Regions from separate parts of the Homo sapiens genome. Here regions 2 and 3 are each linked to region 1. Evidence: fine-mapped expression QTL. A gene starts in region 1. Each other region holds a variant in brackets. All regions are shown on one strand. Distances are between the middles of the regions. Region 1 holds the start of CACNA1H (calcium voltage-gated channel subunit alpha1 H). Region 2 overlaps CACNA1H (calcium voltage-gated channel subunit alpha1 H). Region 3 overlaps CACNA1H (calcium voltage-gated channel subunit alpha1 H).

Evidence for each region.
Region 2: its variant is fine-mapped to the expression of CACNA1H in whole blood (TOPMed, PIP above 0.99).
Region 3: its variant is fine-mapped to the expression of CACNA1H in whole blood (TOPMed, PIP above 0.99). The same link has a PIP of 0.9 or more in blood mononuclear cells.

What each region holds. Positions count from the first base shown.
Region 1 is chr16:1,150,937-1,155,844 of GRCh38, reverse strand. CACNA1H (calcium voltage-gated channel subunit alpha1 H) reads right to left here and starts at 2,739. Exons shown (of 35, transcript NM_021098.3): 1 at 2,375-2,739; 2 at 1,809-2,125. The coding sequence starts at 2,107. RefSeq lists enhancers at 1,118-1,885, 3,260-3,840.
Region 2 is chr16:1,193,970-1,198,877 of GRCh38, reverse strand. It overlaps CACNA1H (calcium voltage-gated channel subunit alpha1 H), which reads right to left. Exons shown (of 35, transcript NM_021098.3): 3 at 3,795-3,906; 4 at 3,313-3,446; 5 at 2,855-2,952; 6 at 104-263. Among named protein-coding and RNA genes, the nearest start is that of TPSG1, 29 kb to the left of the region's middle. RefSeq lists enhancers at 1-299, 300-859. The variant G/T (reference allele first, on the strand shown) is at 2,131.
Region 3 is chr16:1,206,499-1,210,566 of GRCh38, reverse strand. CACNA1H (calcium voltage-gated channel subunit alpha1 H) reads right to left here. Exons shown (of 35, transcript NM_021098.3): 13 at 3,449-3,566; 14 at 3,137-3,292; 15 at 2,707-2,797; 16 at 2,346-2,554; 17 at 1,155-1,535; 18 at 432-532; 19 at 74-197. Among named protein-coding and RNA genes, the nearest start is that of TPSG1, 17 kb to the left of the region's middle. The variant C/T (reference allele first, on the strand shown) is at 2,255.

The sequences.
Region 1 (4,908 bases):
CCCCTGGAGAGCTCATCCCACCTGCATGAGGCCACCCAGCCAACACCTTCCCTGCACACAGCAACGCAAACAACCTCCTTGGAAGTCCTGAGACACACAGCCAGCCCAGAACACCGGGGCCAGGCTCCAAAACTCTCTCAGCCGAGAGGGGACAGGACAGCCAGGCCCGGGGCTGTGAAGAGAGTCCATGCCCTGCTTGGGGATGGGGCAGCCAGGCCCGGGGCTGTGAGGAGAGAGTCCAGGCTTGCTCAACTCTTTCCCTTCTCCGGTCTGCACACGTTGGGAAACAAGGAACGCAGGCCTTGGCTCGGGGCCAGCCTCCCATTCCAACCCATGCAGTCCCTTCCAGACCCTTCCCCATGGCCTGCTGGCACCGCCGGACTAACCCCACACCCAGTCACCTCCTACCAGAACAAAGGGGCATGACCACCTCCCGCCTTGGTTCTAGAGAGGAGACAAACCTACAACCGCTCTTCAAGGCCGGGCCTGCACCTCGGCTCCCGGGGACACCCACCTACTCGCAGACACCACCCTGAGGCTACAGAGGCCTAGGCCGCCCGGGCAGCGGGTGTGGGGCTCCGAGGCAGCCCTCTGGCCGGGGCCGGCTGCCCCCGGGACCACAGCAGCCTCCTCTTCCTCTACAAGCAGAGATGAGTCTGACTCACTCGATGTTTGGATTTGAGAAAGGAGAAACACGGGCTTTATGACTTTTTTTGTACAGATTCCTCTTTCGTGTTTAATATTTGTACAGTTAAACACACAAGGTAGGGAAGTGTACACAGGCCGCTCCTGCTGCCAGCCTGTCTCCCCACCTCCGACGGGGGACGTCTGCGGGCAGGGTCTCTCCACCCGTCCCCAGGCCCGGAGCAGAAGCCACGGCCTGGCCACCCCAGCTGCCGGCTCAGAAGGGCCGGTGGGGAGACCCGGCCCTGACACAGGCACCACGCAAGGCCCTTCTCAGGGCACGCGGAGACCCGCCCCCAAGGCCACCTGCTGGGGGGCCCCCTGGACCTCCGTGTACATCCCACAAATGCCCCTGGCCCTGACCCAACTCTGTTCTGGAACCTTCTCTGCAGTCTGTGCCGCTCTGGCCGAGAGTAGAAGAGGCTGCCTCTTCCTCTCCAGCCAGGGAAGGGGCTGGGGAGATGAGACTCCCCCTTGGCAGTGCCAATTGCCTCCCTGCCCCCTACCCTTCAGCTGCGCATGACTTAAGTCAGCCCCGCCACCGAGTTCAGCCAGAAAAAGCGAGTTCACAACCAACGTCACCGCCTCTCTCCACGGAAAAGGCCCTGGCGGCGCTCACAGGCCCCACGGGTCTCCCCACGCACTCGGAACCACCAGGCGCCGGCTGAAAACTTTGCGCCCCTGACTCCAGCTCCTCTGGCCTCCCCCTCCCCCGCGAGGGGCCTGCCTCGGGCAGGACCTTCAGACAGTGAGGGGTGGGCAAGGGGGAAATTCCCGTCCTGGCCAACACCCTTGGGGCCGCGAGGAGTTAGGACCTTCCCTCCCTCCCCGACTCCTCTCCCCTCCAAGCCCGCGGGGGCCTCACCGCTTCGCTTCCACCTTCTCCGTCCGGAGCCGGCCCTGGGGAAGGGAGTCCGGAGGCGCCCGGTGGCCCCCCAAGCCCGCCACTCTCAGAAATTAGAGCGCGGTCCTCCAGCCCCTGCCCTGCACCCCCGCGCGCCCGGCCCACGCCAGGTCCCACCAACAGGGGCGCGCGGGGGCGCATGCCGAGGGAGTCCCGCGCCCCGGGCCCCCACCCTCCCCACGCCCCCCGCCCCCCGCCCCCCGCCGGCCGGGAAGGATATGGGTTGCAGACCAGCCGGAGGCACCAGCTGCGCGGCCGCGTGGTCTGACCGAGGCAGAAGAAGACCGTGGCCGCCAAGGCCGGGTACGGGACGCGCTGCTCCTCGTCGGCACCCAGCTCCGCGCCGCGCTCGGCCGCCGGGCTCTCGGAGGGTGACACGCCGAGCTCGGACCCCCGCTCCGCCTCGCGTCCCGGCGCCCCGGGGCTCTCCGGGGACGCCCCCACCAACGCCGCAGGGCCAGGGGGCGGCGCGCCCAGGGGCACCCGGACCTCGTCGGCGGCCCGTGCGCCCTCGGTCATGGTGGCGGCCGGCAGCACCTGCAGAGGACAGGGGGTGACCCGGGGCCGGTGGCGACGCCCCCGCCCTGCCTCCCGCGGCGCGGAGCTGCGGGAACAGCCGCGGCCGCCGGGATGTCTTTGTCTTTTCTTATTAGAGACAAACGCGCCCCCCGCCCCCGCCCGCCCCCTCCCTCCCTCCAGCGGCCCCACCCCCACCCCGAGGGGCTCCCCGGCCCGCTTCGCGCAAGTTGAAGAGGGTCCCGGGCGCGCGTCCTCGCCGCGTCTCACCTCGCTCTGCTGGCCGGCGGCGTCCCCGCGGGCATCGCCCGGGCGGCGCGGTCACCGCGGACCCCGCTCGGCGCCCGGCCCCGGCCCCGGCCCCCAGCGCCTCCGCCCCCGGCCCCGGCCCCGGCCCCCAGCGCCTCCGCCCCCGGCCCGCGTCCCCAGCCCGCCCGGCTCCCGGCCGCGGCTCGACTCCGGCTCCGGCTCGCCCGGCGGAGGCGACGGCGGCGGCCTCGGCGCGGCGTGGAGGCCGCTGAGCGGACGGGTGAGGCCGGGGCGCGGGGCGCGGGGCGCGGGGCGCGGGCCGGGGACCGGTGAGGCAGCGAGCGAGCCTCGAGCCCGTCCGCGCGCGGCGCAGGAAACTTCGGGCTGAGCGGCGGGGGGCGGGGCGGGGCGGGGCCGGCGCGACCGGGGCGGGGCCAGCGTGGCCGGGGCGGGGCCGGGGGCGGGGCGGGCGGGGGGGTACTGGGGAGGATCCGCCCCCGGCCCGAGACGCGCGCGCCCGAGCGACCCCTCCCTGTCGCCGCCCGGCGCCCCGCCCCCCCCCGGGTGCGGGAAGTTGGACCCCGCCCGCGCCCCCTCCACGCCCCCGCACTGGGCTCCCCGCTTTTCGTGCTCCCCAACAATGCCGGGCGTGGGGTGCACCAGGGGGCGCTCGCGGGAGGCTCCGGCGGGGTGGGAGGGGGAGCACCTACGTCCTTCCCTGCCCCCAACTGCGGGGGCGGCCGAGCCGCCGATGCCGCGCCCCTCCCCCTCCCGCTCCGGCTCCCCCTCCCCCTTCGCGCTGCCGCGCGCGCCGCCGCCGCCCCCACCCCCACCCCCACTACGACGCGGGCCCGGGTCGGCGGAGGGGCGGGGACCGGGCGGGCGTGGAAGGCGAGAGGCTGCGTGCCCCTTCCCCGCCGCGTGTGTGTCCCGGGTGTGCCCGCGCGCGCGTGTGTGATGGGGCGCGGGGGCGGGCGGGGGTGTGCTTTACGGCTGGGCGCTCCTGCACTCGCATCTCTCCCCGACACGCACGGGCAGTTTCCGCGAACTTGTCCTCGTCTCCGGTCCCCTCCCGCGTGGGGATCTGGGGGACCCTGGGGACGGCAGCCTGGTGCTCCTGCATCCTCCAACCCCGCTGCCTCAGCGAGACTCACCCAGGGGCCCCCGAGGAGAAGTGCAGGCCCCTTCCCCCTGCCAGCAGCTGCTCCTTCAGCCAGGCCAGCAGAAGGGCCTTCCCCTGGACCCTCAGAGCAAGTGGTTTGGTCGGGAAGGGGTGGACCCTTCAGACATTGGGGATGGCCAGGCCCTTGTCCCAGGGAGGGCTGGCCGCACCTCGAGGTGCCAGCAGGTGGGGGCAGGTGCCCAGGCTCCTGACTCCCCCCAGGGCACCCCTCCAGGCTGGAAGGGTGGTTTTGCTTCTGGGACCACTGCTTTGTGCACCAGGGAGCTTGAGCTCCCAGGTGTGCACCTCAGCACGCCCGCCAACAAGGGGCCCCTGGTAGTGGGAGAGACCCCTTCTCCCTCCAGACAAAGAGGCCCTGCTCCAGGGCGCACCCTGAGACCCCAGACCCGGAGAGGCTGTGGGGCGGCTGTGGCTTCCCACCTGCGGGTGAGCAGCAGAGAAGCAGGACCTCCCCCGGGTGGGCCACATCGTGCAGGGTGAAGAAGAGGCCCTGCCCAGCTGGGGCCCGGAAGGACACACAGCACCTGGGGTGGGCCGAGGAACTGGAAGGCAGGAGTGTGGGGGCCTGGCTGGGGTACAGGTCCTTTCAGCAGCACCTCCTCCTGTATACGGGAACTTTCAAGAAAAGGAAAACATTCAGTCTATTTTAATGCAACTACTCAGCGATGGAGGGCCACAGCTGGTGAATTAGGCCTTCAAAGGTCCAATTAAGGTTCCAGCCACAGAGGAGCAGGACCTAGGAGAGCCCCGTGCTTTGGACACATCCGTGGAGGGAGGCTGGAGCAGGTGGGGAGACACAAACGCTGAATCGGAGTCCGGTCCAGAGGGCACTTGGAACCTCTGATCTTTTTATCAACACCCTGCTCGTTAAAAGTTAGGGTGGGCCAGGTGCAGTGGCTCACGCCTGTAATCCCAGCACTTTGGGAGGCCGAGGTGTGTGGATCACTTGAGGTCAGGAGTTCGAGACCAGCCTGACCAACATGGTGAAATCCCGTCTCTACTAAAATACAAAAATTAGCCAGGCATGGTGACATATGCCTGTAATCCCCGCTACTCGGGATGCTGAGGGAGGAGAATCACTTGAACCCAGGAGGCAGAGGTTGCAGTGAGCCGAGATCACGCCACTGCACTCCAGCCTGGGTGACAGAGTGGACTCTGCCTCAAAAAAATAATAAGTTAATTAATTAATTAATTAAAGCTAAGGCAAAGCCACAGACTGAAGCTCCAGATTCTAGCTGGGGGCTGTCGTTGATTTGCTGGACAAATGGTAGTTGAGGGTGGACAGTGCGCGGGGCCCGGTTGGAGGGTGGAGGTGCCTTGGCTGTGACCAGACAGACCCGGTTCTCATGCCTGCAGCTTCCGTCTTATGGGG
Region 2 (4,908 bases), 43 kb before region 1:
CGGTGGGCAGAGCCACGTGGGGCGGTGGAGCCACATGGTGCGTTATCTGCATGGTGGGCAGGGCCATCTGGGCAGGGGCCTCACGGGGGTGGGGCCTGGGCACCTGACAAAGGCACTGTCCAGGAAGCAGCGGTTCCGCAGGAGGCCAGCCCAGAGCTGGACGCCAACGATGCCGAAAATGAAGAAGACGAAGAAGCACAGCAGAAGGACGTTCCCGAGCATGGGCAGCGTATCCAGCAGCAGAGTGACCAGGATCCGCATGCCTGTGGGCAGCAGGGCCAGGATTGGCACTGCTAAGCCCTGCAGGAGTGTCCTCGGGGCTGCAGCCCCTCCCGGGACCCCCGAGCCCCGTCCACTGTTCACAGTGGGTGTCCACGCCCACTGCACACTGACTCGGGCCACCCCCTGGTGATTTTCCCGCACCCCTAGTGTGATCGGGACTCCCCTCCTACCACCACCGGCCTCCAGGGACACTGACACCCTGGGGTCTGACGTGCATCCAGCGGGGCGCCAGGTCTCCACCTCCAACCATCCCAGGGCAGCAGGTCTGCTGCTTTTGGAGGGCTGGGGTGTGGAGGGGCAGGAGTGGAGGCAGGGGACTGGCCGAGGCAGGGAACTGGCTGCGGCAGGTCTGACCACGTGGCATCTCGGGCTCGGGATGACCAGGCGGAGCCCAGTGGCCCTCGAGGCTTGTCTGGCGACACCCTGAAGTTGCCACCAAGGCAGCAGGAGCCTTGGGAGCCCCAGAACCTCAGGTGGTGGGCTGCCTCCTGGGGGTCTCTGCAGCAGGTCTGGGATCCTGAAAACTTTGTCTGATTCCCAGTGAGAATCCTGCCAGAACAGAGCCCCATCTCAGAGAGAGGCTGCTGGAGGCGGTGGGGAGGACCGGCAGCGGCTTTTCAGGAGGTAGCACTGAAGCCATCGGTCCTGGGTGCTATGGGCTACGTGAACTCCAGATTAATCCAGCAAGTGGGTCAGCCAAGCCCCACGCGCCCCTCGCTCCATCCTGGGCCTGCTCCCCCAAGACGTCCTTTCCCTCAAATTTAATCAAGGGCCAGGCTAAGGCAGCAGGTAAAGCCCTGGGCCAGGAACCTGGGGACGCTGAGTTCTCACCCAGCACCCAGGGGTATCAATGGCAAAACGGGCCCCTCAGGTCACAAGGGTGAGTCAGAGCCAGGAGGAGCACTGAAGTGTCAAAAGAGCCGACCGGAGCAGACAATCAGTGAGCACTGCCCTGGCCAGACCGCAACCGCCTCAAAGATCACAGATGACCCAGAGGTCAGAGTGGACCCCTAGCCAACAGAACAGGATGCAGCCCTGAGCGTGTCCTCATTATGAGAAGCGTATTATCCAGTCTGGAAGAGTTCCCTAGTTCTCTCCTAGAGACAGGAGCAGATCCCCAGGAGGCCAGGCTGCTGGCGACAATTAGGGCCACTCTGGCAATTTAACCTGAAAAGTAAACATCCATGGAAGGAAGGGGCTGTGTGTGCTGGGTTGCTTCACGCTTCAACAGGTGGGGCCAGGCCGGCGTGCAGACTGAACGTACAGTGGGTGCCGGGCAAAGGGCCAAGAGCCACACACGCGTCCCCTCACCGCACGCTCAGCCACCCTTGGGGTCATGGTTACTCCTGTACTGCACTATTCCAGGAGAAACTGAGGTTCAGGCTCAGCTAGTTGCTCAGAGTCACACAGTATTCAAGCCCTATCTGAGCCACACAGTAGAGCCAAGGCAGGCAGGTGGAAGGCAGGCTCAGGGACCAGCGGCACGAGGATGACCCACCTGCCCTTCGGGAAGCCAGAGGCCCCATGGGAAGGAGTGCCTAGCCTTGGGGGTCTGTGACTTTGGGGGGTTGCTGCAGGTCAAGCCCTGAGTGCCAAGGCCACCAGGACCCAGGTCAGGCAGCCAGAAAGGCTGTGTTACACCCGCACGTGCACACACGGGGCCACATCTACACGCAGTATGCACTCGCGCCTGGTACGGCCTCGTGGGGGCCGCGCCGACCCCCAGGAACCAGAGCAGTTGAATGTAGCCCTGAGTGCTTAAAGAACGATCCCACCCCATCCCCTGATGCAGGTGGGTGGCCCGGATTTGACAGGATGTTTCCCAAACAAGCAGGCATATGACTTCCT[G/T]GAAGCTCTTCCTCCGCCTCCCCTCACACCCAGCGCACAGCAGACACACAGCAGCTCCTCTCCACCAGGCCCCCTCCTCACACCTGCTGGCCAAATCCTGAAGGATTTCCAGCCTTCCTTCTAGAAAATCAGCTGCTCAGCAGGGGACACGGAGGCCCAGCCCTGGCCAGCCAACTTCCCCTTTCCTTAGGTGGGGATCCTGGCAGGAGAGTAGGGGCCAGAAGCAGTGGCGGGTGGGGAGAGCGAGGTGTCCTCAGGACAGGTGTCAGGCTCTCCCCTCACTTGTGTGGGTGTGAAGGCGGGGCTTCACAGAGCCCCCAGGTGAGCTGAGCCACACCCACAAGAGTGTCTCCACCACGAGCCACACCAGGATGCGCCAGACAGCAAAGCCACCAGGGATCTGCTCGGCCTCCAGCCTTGCCCCAGATGCCATGCAGAGAAGGAACCGGAGGTTCGGAGTGGCCCCTGTCACTCGGCTGTGTGGGAGCCAGGTACCCTGTGAATGCTGACTGCCCACCACACCGCAGCTTGATTCTCCCCTGACATGCAAGGCCCACGGATAGCGGCAGGGGCCACCCCACTGCTGGGGTCTGGGCTGGGGCCGGAGTGCCTGGTAACCTTCATTTCCCAGTCCTGTGCTCCTGGGGGCCCTTTTGAGAGCTCTGCAGGGCTGGCGGACACGCAAGCCTGTTGATCTCAAGCCCAGTCGGGGCCGGTCACTTACTAGGCACGCGGTTGATGGCGCGGAGGGGCCGCAGCACCCGCACGGTCCTGATAGCCGAGAGGCTCACGTTGTGTCCGTCCAACGAGTACTCCATCATGCTGGGGGCGGGGCCGAGGGGGAGCAGCTCAACAAGGAGCCCAGGTGGTCCAGGGTGGGGCTGGGGTGCAAAGTAGGGTGGGCAGGCATAGAACCGGCCAGCCCGGCACCCGGAGGACCTTGTACTGGCCAGGAAGGGCCCCGAGGTAGCAGGAGCACAACGCTTGGTCACATCAGGAGGCCACCTCCCTCACCTGTGCCCAGGAGGGAGGGTCTCCGGAGTCCCAGACAGGGTCCCTGGCTCTACCTGGATCCCTCTAGAACACACCTCCCATTTTTCTTTACAGGTGGGACACAGGGATCCCTGTGGGGTGGGCGGGGCCCCTTCGCCAGCGCTGTGGCCTCTCCCAGGCGGGGCCTACCCCGCCACGACGATGAAGAAATCCAGCCTGTTCCACGTGTCACCCAGGTAACACTTCTGCCCGAACAGCCCCAAGGCCACCATCTTGATGACCATCTCCACCGCAAAAAAGGCGAAAATGAAGGCGTCAAAGGCCTGCGGGAGGAGGCATCAGGAGGGCCCGTGGAACAGCTCAGCTCAGCCCACAACCCCCAACCCCAGCCCCGCAAGAGCCCGGCCCCCAGTCTTGCCACACCCCTCGCCCCGCCCCTGCCCCGCCCTGAGCCCCAGGAACTGAGCCCTGCCTCGCCTTGAACCTCGCCTCTCGCCCTGCCCCACCCCCAGCCCCACCTCGCGCCCCGCCGTGAACCTCGCCCTGATCCCCGACCCTGACCCACTCCACGCCCCACCTTGAACCTTGCCCCGCCCCCGCCCCACTCCGCCTTGAACCATAAACCTCGTAGCGACCCACGCTCCTTCCCCACCCCGACCCACGCCCCTCACCTCCAGGATGTTGCAGCGCTCGGAGCCGCACTCAACGTCCTCACAGGGCCGGAACATGCCCAGGGTCACGCAGTTGAGCATGATTACCAGCATGCTCACGTGCTCGAACCATGTGTCGCCGCGGGTTAAGGAGCACACCGGCGCGGCCCGGGACCCGCTCCCATGGGGCCCTCCAAATGCCCACCCGGTCAGCCGGAGCCCCGCCACGGGTGTGCGCGCGTGGGGGTGTCCAGGATGGGGTGGGGGACTCGGGACCGACGGCCGCCCCTCCTGAAAGCAGCCACCAGGTGGCGCCTGGGGCCTGCGCCTGGCCGGGCTCTGCTCCGTGAGGGTCCCAGGCCCGGCCCCCTGGCCCTCGGCGTTGGCTCATCAGGAAAGCGGGGTGCAGGAGCCCTCGGTGGGCTGGCCGCATCGGTAGTGAGGCCCCAGTGAGGGCCACTCAGACTCCCAGGGCCTAGCTGCCCACATGGGGCCCAGGTTGCATAGGGCTCCCGCGCTGGGGGGCTGTAGGCAGGGCACCCTGTGCAACTGGGAGGGCCCCAGGGCAGGGGGAATGTCGGGGCACCGCCATGCAACCCACCGGACAGGACTCCCCGTCCCACCCTCCAGGCCTGGACGGTGGCACAACTCGGGGCAGACTTTCCAGGGCCCCTGTCCCAGGGCTGCGCGGCCCCACCCTGACCAGGGAACCAGAGGAAGGAGGGAGAGGCAATCCGTCAGCTGACTGTGGACCCAGGAGGGACCTTCCTTAAGGTAGAAGCCGGCATTTGGAAAGCACCAACTTGTCAGCGAACAGCCTTGGGAAGTCAGGCACCAGCTCTGACAGTCCCTGCCGTCACCAACACGTGGGAACCGAGGAGGAGACAGAGCTGGGCATCCTCTCACAGCTGATTCAGGGGCAGCCCGGTGGCCGCCCCCACCCCTGGCTCTGGACTTGGGCCTGTGCTTGACTCTCGGGGGCCGCCCTTCCCAGCACCCACCTGGCGCAGACCACAGGCCTCAGCGCCCACGGCTCCCCCTCACCCCTGGCAGGCCTGCTTGGGACCCGGATGATGGTGGCAGCAGCGCCCCCTGCCCAACACGGGCCACGCTCACTACAGCGGAGGTCCTGGGT
Region 3 (4,068 bases), 55 kb before region 1:
GTGGGGGGCTGTGTCCACTCCACCCCTCCCTGGGGGTCGTGGTGGCCCGGGACGATGGGGTTGGCTGACTCACGGTGCTGCCGGGATCAATGTCAGGCCTCTCCAGGGCGATGGTGACGCAGTTGAGGAAGATGAAGACGAGGACCACGTGATCAAACATCTTGTGTGTGATGACCTTCTGGCAGGAGACGCGGAACCTGGGTGGGCGGGGGCGGGTGAGAGGTGGGGCGGGGCGGCGTGGATGGCAGAGTGGATGGGGGTTGCAGGACAGCCCTGGCCACGCCTCCACTTCAGCCCCGGTCCCTGCGGTGTGAGAAGGGGTGCCCACTCGGAAATATCCACCATGTGCTAGCCCCACCCAGGAGGGACCTGGGGGCGGGGGTCCCGTGGGGTGGAACTAGCCATGCAGCCTCCTGACCCGGCCGCCTCACCGGTTCTGTGGGGAGAAGAGGTAGAGGGCCCAGGCCTCGCGGCTCCGGCACCACTGGGGCTTGTAGGGCTCCAGCACTTTATGCAGGCGGAGGCAGCAGCTCTGTGGGATGAGGCGGCGGCTTCTCAGAGCCTGCGCCTGCCTGCCCGGCCCCCCATCAGGGCCCTCTGTGCTCAGCTCGGCCACCCCTCCCAGCACCTTCTCAGCCTTCTCCATCCTCACTCCTCACCCGCTGGCCTTTGGGCTCTGGCTTTCTGGCCTCTGGGGCCCATACCGTGGAGCCTCCCCCTTCCCTACGCTGGTGACGGCAGAGTGACCCGTGCTGGAGTCCACGGGGCCAGGTGAGCGGGTGCTCTTGGGTCCCTGACTCTGGGAGTGGTCCTTGACCCACGGAAGCCTGAGAGCCTAGCGGATGCCTGGCCCTGCCTCGGCAGCAGCTCTCGGCCAGTGGCTGACCCACGGCGCAGAGCCCAGCCCCCGTATGCAGGCCGTGCGTGGAGCGTTTAGCTCACAGCCCCTAGACGGCAGAGGGGGGACTCTGGGATCATCTGTGGCTGAATCCCTGAACACTGCTGGATTCCTCCCTGGCCTGGCCTGCTTCTCTCCCCTTCTGAATCCCCTCAGTCAACAACACGCCCTGAATCCCATCTCAAACCCCACTTGAGGGAACCTGCCCCAGACAGACGAAGGCGAGTCGGCGGTGGGCCCAGGGCCACGCACTCACGTCCTCCGAGTCGTCGTCAAGCTCGGCTGCATCCTCACGGTGGCTGTCGATGCGCAGGAAGAAGTCGCTGGGCAGGGCCACCACCTGCCCGTCGCGATCGCGGCACTTGGTAGGCGGGAGGGCGGCCGGCCGCAGGGGCCGTGGGTCCAGGGACTCGGCCCGCCGCAGTGGGGTGGCACGGGGCCCGGGCGCGGCCCTGCCGTCCTCAGCTTCGTCGTCGGTGCTGCCCTTGCCCTCGCCAGACAGCAGGGACTCACGTTCCCCACACTGGCCGCGGCGCTTGAGGCTGGGGGCACGGCCCAGGCTGCTCCAGCTGGAGCGCCGGCTGCTCCAGGCGCCACTGGGGCCCCAGGGGGCACAGGGAGAACTTCGGAGGCTGGCCTGGGGGGTGGCGGGAGTCAGTGACCTGGTGGCATCACTATTAGCACCGACCGCTGTCATTACGGAGCACCCACTGTGTGCAAGCCACACGTGGATCATTTAATGCATAGCCCCGCCAGGGAGGCACGGTGGAGGCTGTGATTTTAGGGGGACACCGAGCCAGCCACAGGCGTAGCTCATGAGGGTCAGGGTGTCCGCCTCGCGGGGGTGATGCCCTGGGCTCTGCTGGGTCAGGGGCCAGAACCAGCCCAGGACCAGACAAAGTGTGGGTGGCCCCCGTGTCCCCAGGAGCACACTGGGCCTGCGGCTCTGCCTCACAGCTGCCCCGCTTCCTCCCCTGCTAGGGCGTCTGGCTCACTCCCATCCTCCGTGTCTGTTGTGGGTGGTACTGCCTGGAGTTCGTTTCAAAACTGCTCCCCTCCAGTCCCCCTGGACCCAGAGAGATGCCCTGGCCGTAAAGGGAATCGGGCTGCTTCTGGTGGCAGCGGAACCCCCGCCTGGCCTGCCGTCTGCTTGCCGGGCACGCTTCTGCCCCTGCTTGCTTCGGTCTTTCTGTGCTGTGCGCTGTGCACTCTGCTAGACTGTTGGGCGCACAGAGCTTCCGCGTCTGCCCCTTCACACCGGCCTCACACAACAGCAGCCACAGCTTCCATTTCCGGAAACCAGAACACTCTTTCTCAGTCTCTGCACAGGCTGGGACTTCAAGGGTGTGGGGGGTG[C/T]GGCCCTCACTCATCTTCAGGGAAGGCCATAAGGAGCCAGGCAGGGAAAACCTGAAGGGGCCTGAGAGCTGGGGCAGGAGATGGTCCCTACCGGAGGCTTCTGGTCTCCCAGTGGCGGGTCCCCGGAGCTGCTGCTGCCACGCCGAGAGTCTGGGAGGCTGGGGGCTGCATCCAGGAATGGTGAGCTCTTGGGGGTAGGCATGGGCGTGGCAGCTGTGCACATGATGAGGGGAGGGGACAGGCTGCCTCGTCCCTCCAGGTGCCCGTTGGGGGTCACGGCCAGGGAACACATCTTCAGCTCTGCGGGACAGAGGGAGGAATGGGCCCCTAGAGCTGCCAGGCTCCCAGGACCAGGAATCCCCCAACCTAGGGATTGCCTTATGGGGGCCCTGCCCGGCCAGCCCAGCGTACTCCACCCGCCAGAACCCGGACCACCCACCGACCACACGCACCTGTGGTCTGGAGTTCTCTGAGCTTGTGGAAGTCCTCCTCGAAGTGGACCGACGTCTTGTCCTCGTCCGTGTCGGATCTGTTGGCATCGCCCTAAACCCAACAAAGCACAAGGCAGGCATGAGGGGCCCCGTGAGTGGGGACCCTTCATGCCGGACAGAAGTCTGGGCTGGCCTGGGAGGTGGGGTGTGGACAGAAGGGCCCAGAGGATGATGTCACTGCCAGGGTGGGCAGGTAGGTGAGGAATCTGCCTCTCCCGACCGACCCCTGCCCACTCCGCTGGGCTCCTGGCCTCCCCTCTCCTCATGGCAGCCAGCTTCCCTTCTCTATCCCTCACCTCTTGGCAGGCCCCCCACACCCCTCCCCTCGACCTGAAGCCCGTCTCTCTTCTCATCGCCCTCCTCCTGGCAGCCCCTCTCCCTGCCCCCTCACCTCCGCCTGGAAGCCCTCCACGAGGATGGCCACCAGCAGGTTGAAGAGCACATAGTTGCCGAAGGTCATGAGGGCCACGAAGTAGAGGGCGGCCCAGGAGGAGGTGGAGGCCATGCCGTTGTACAGGACCACGTTCCAGTCCTCCTGGGTCAGGATCTGGGGGATAGCAGGGGGCCTGGGGTGGTCACCCCAGCCCCGAAATGCCGGCAAGTCCTTGGGGCAGAGGCAGCTATGGATGCGCAGGACGGCACCTCCACCTCTCTGGGGACCACACTCAGCACCCAACACTGCTGCGGGGACCCCGGGCACTACCTGGAACACGGTGACGATGGCCCACAGCAGGGAGTCGAAGTTCTTCCTGTCAGGCACGGTGTCTCCGGTGTCTGTCTTCAGGCTGAACTTGCAGCCGAAAAGGTGCATGCCCAGGATGCTGAGGGTGGGGGCAGGGGCGTGTTGAGGGTGGAGGCAGGGGTGTGCTGAGCGGAAGAAGGTGGGGGAGCGGGAGGGGGGTGGGAGGAGGGAGGGGCAGGACTGGCTCTGCCCGTCTTGGCTCTCCTGGCCTCCTACCCTCCCTGGGCGCCCGAGCTCTCTAGCTTAAAAGGGACTTCCTGCCCTACAACTCAGTAGTGTCCATTCCACAGGCGAGAGAACCAAGACCAGAGGCGGGACAGACAGAGGGAAGCCACTCTGGATTTGGGTGGCAACTGGAACCTGGGACACCTGCCTCATTCAGCCTCTCTGGACTGTGAAAGCCCGGCCTGCCTGGCTGCCTAGCCTCCAGCCGACCCTGACCCTGAGCTCCAGGCTAGACGGGCACACAGCAGGCGCTCAGAACACCCCAGTTGGAGCCTGGTGCCTGCCCCCACCCCCGGTATTCTGCTCTTGAGTAAATCCCCAGCTTGTCCACCTGGCGGCCCATCTCTGACCCCTGC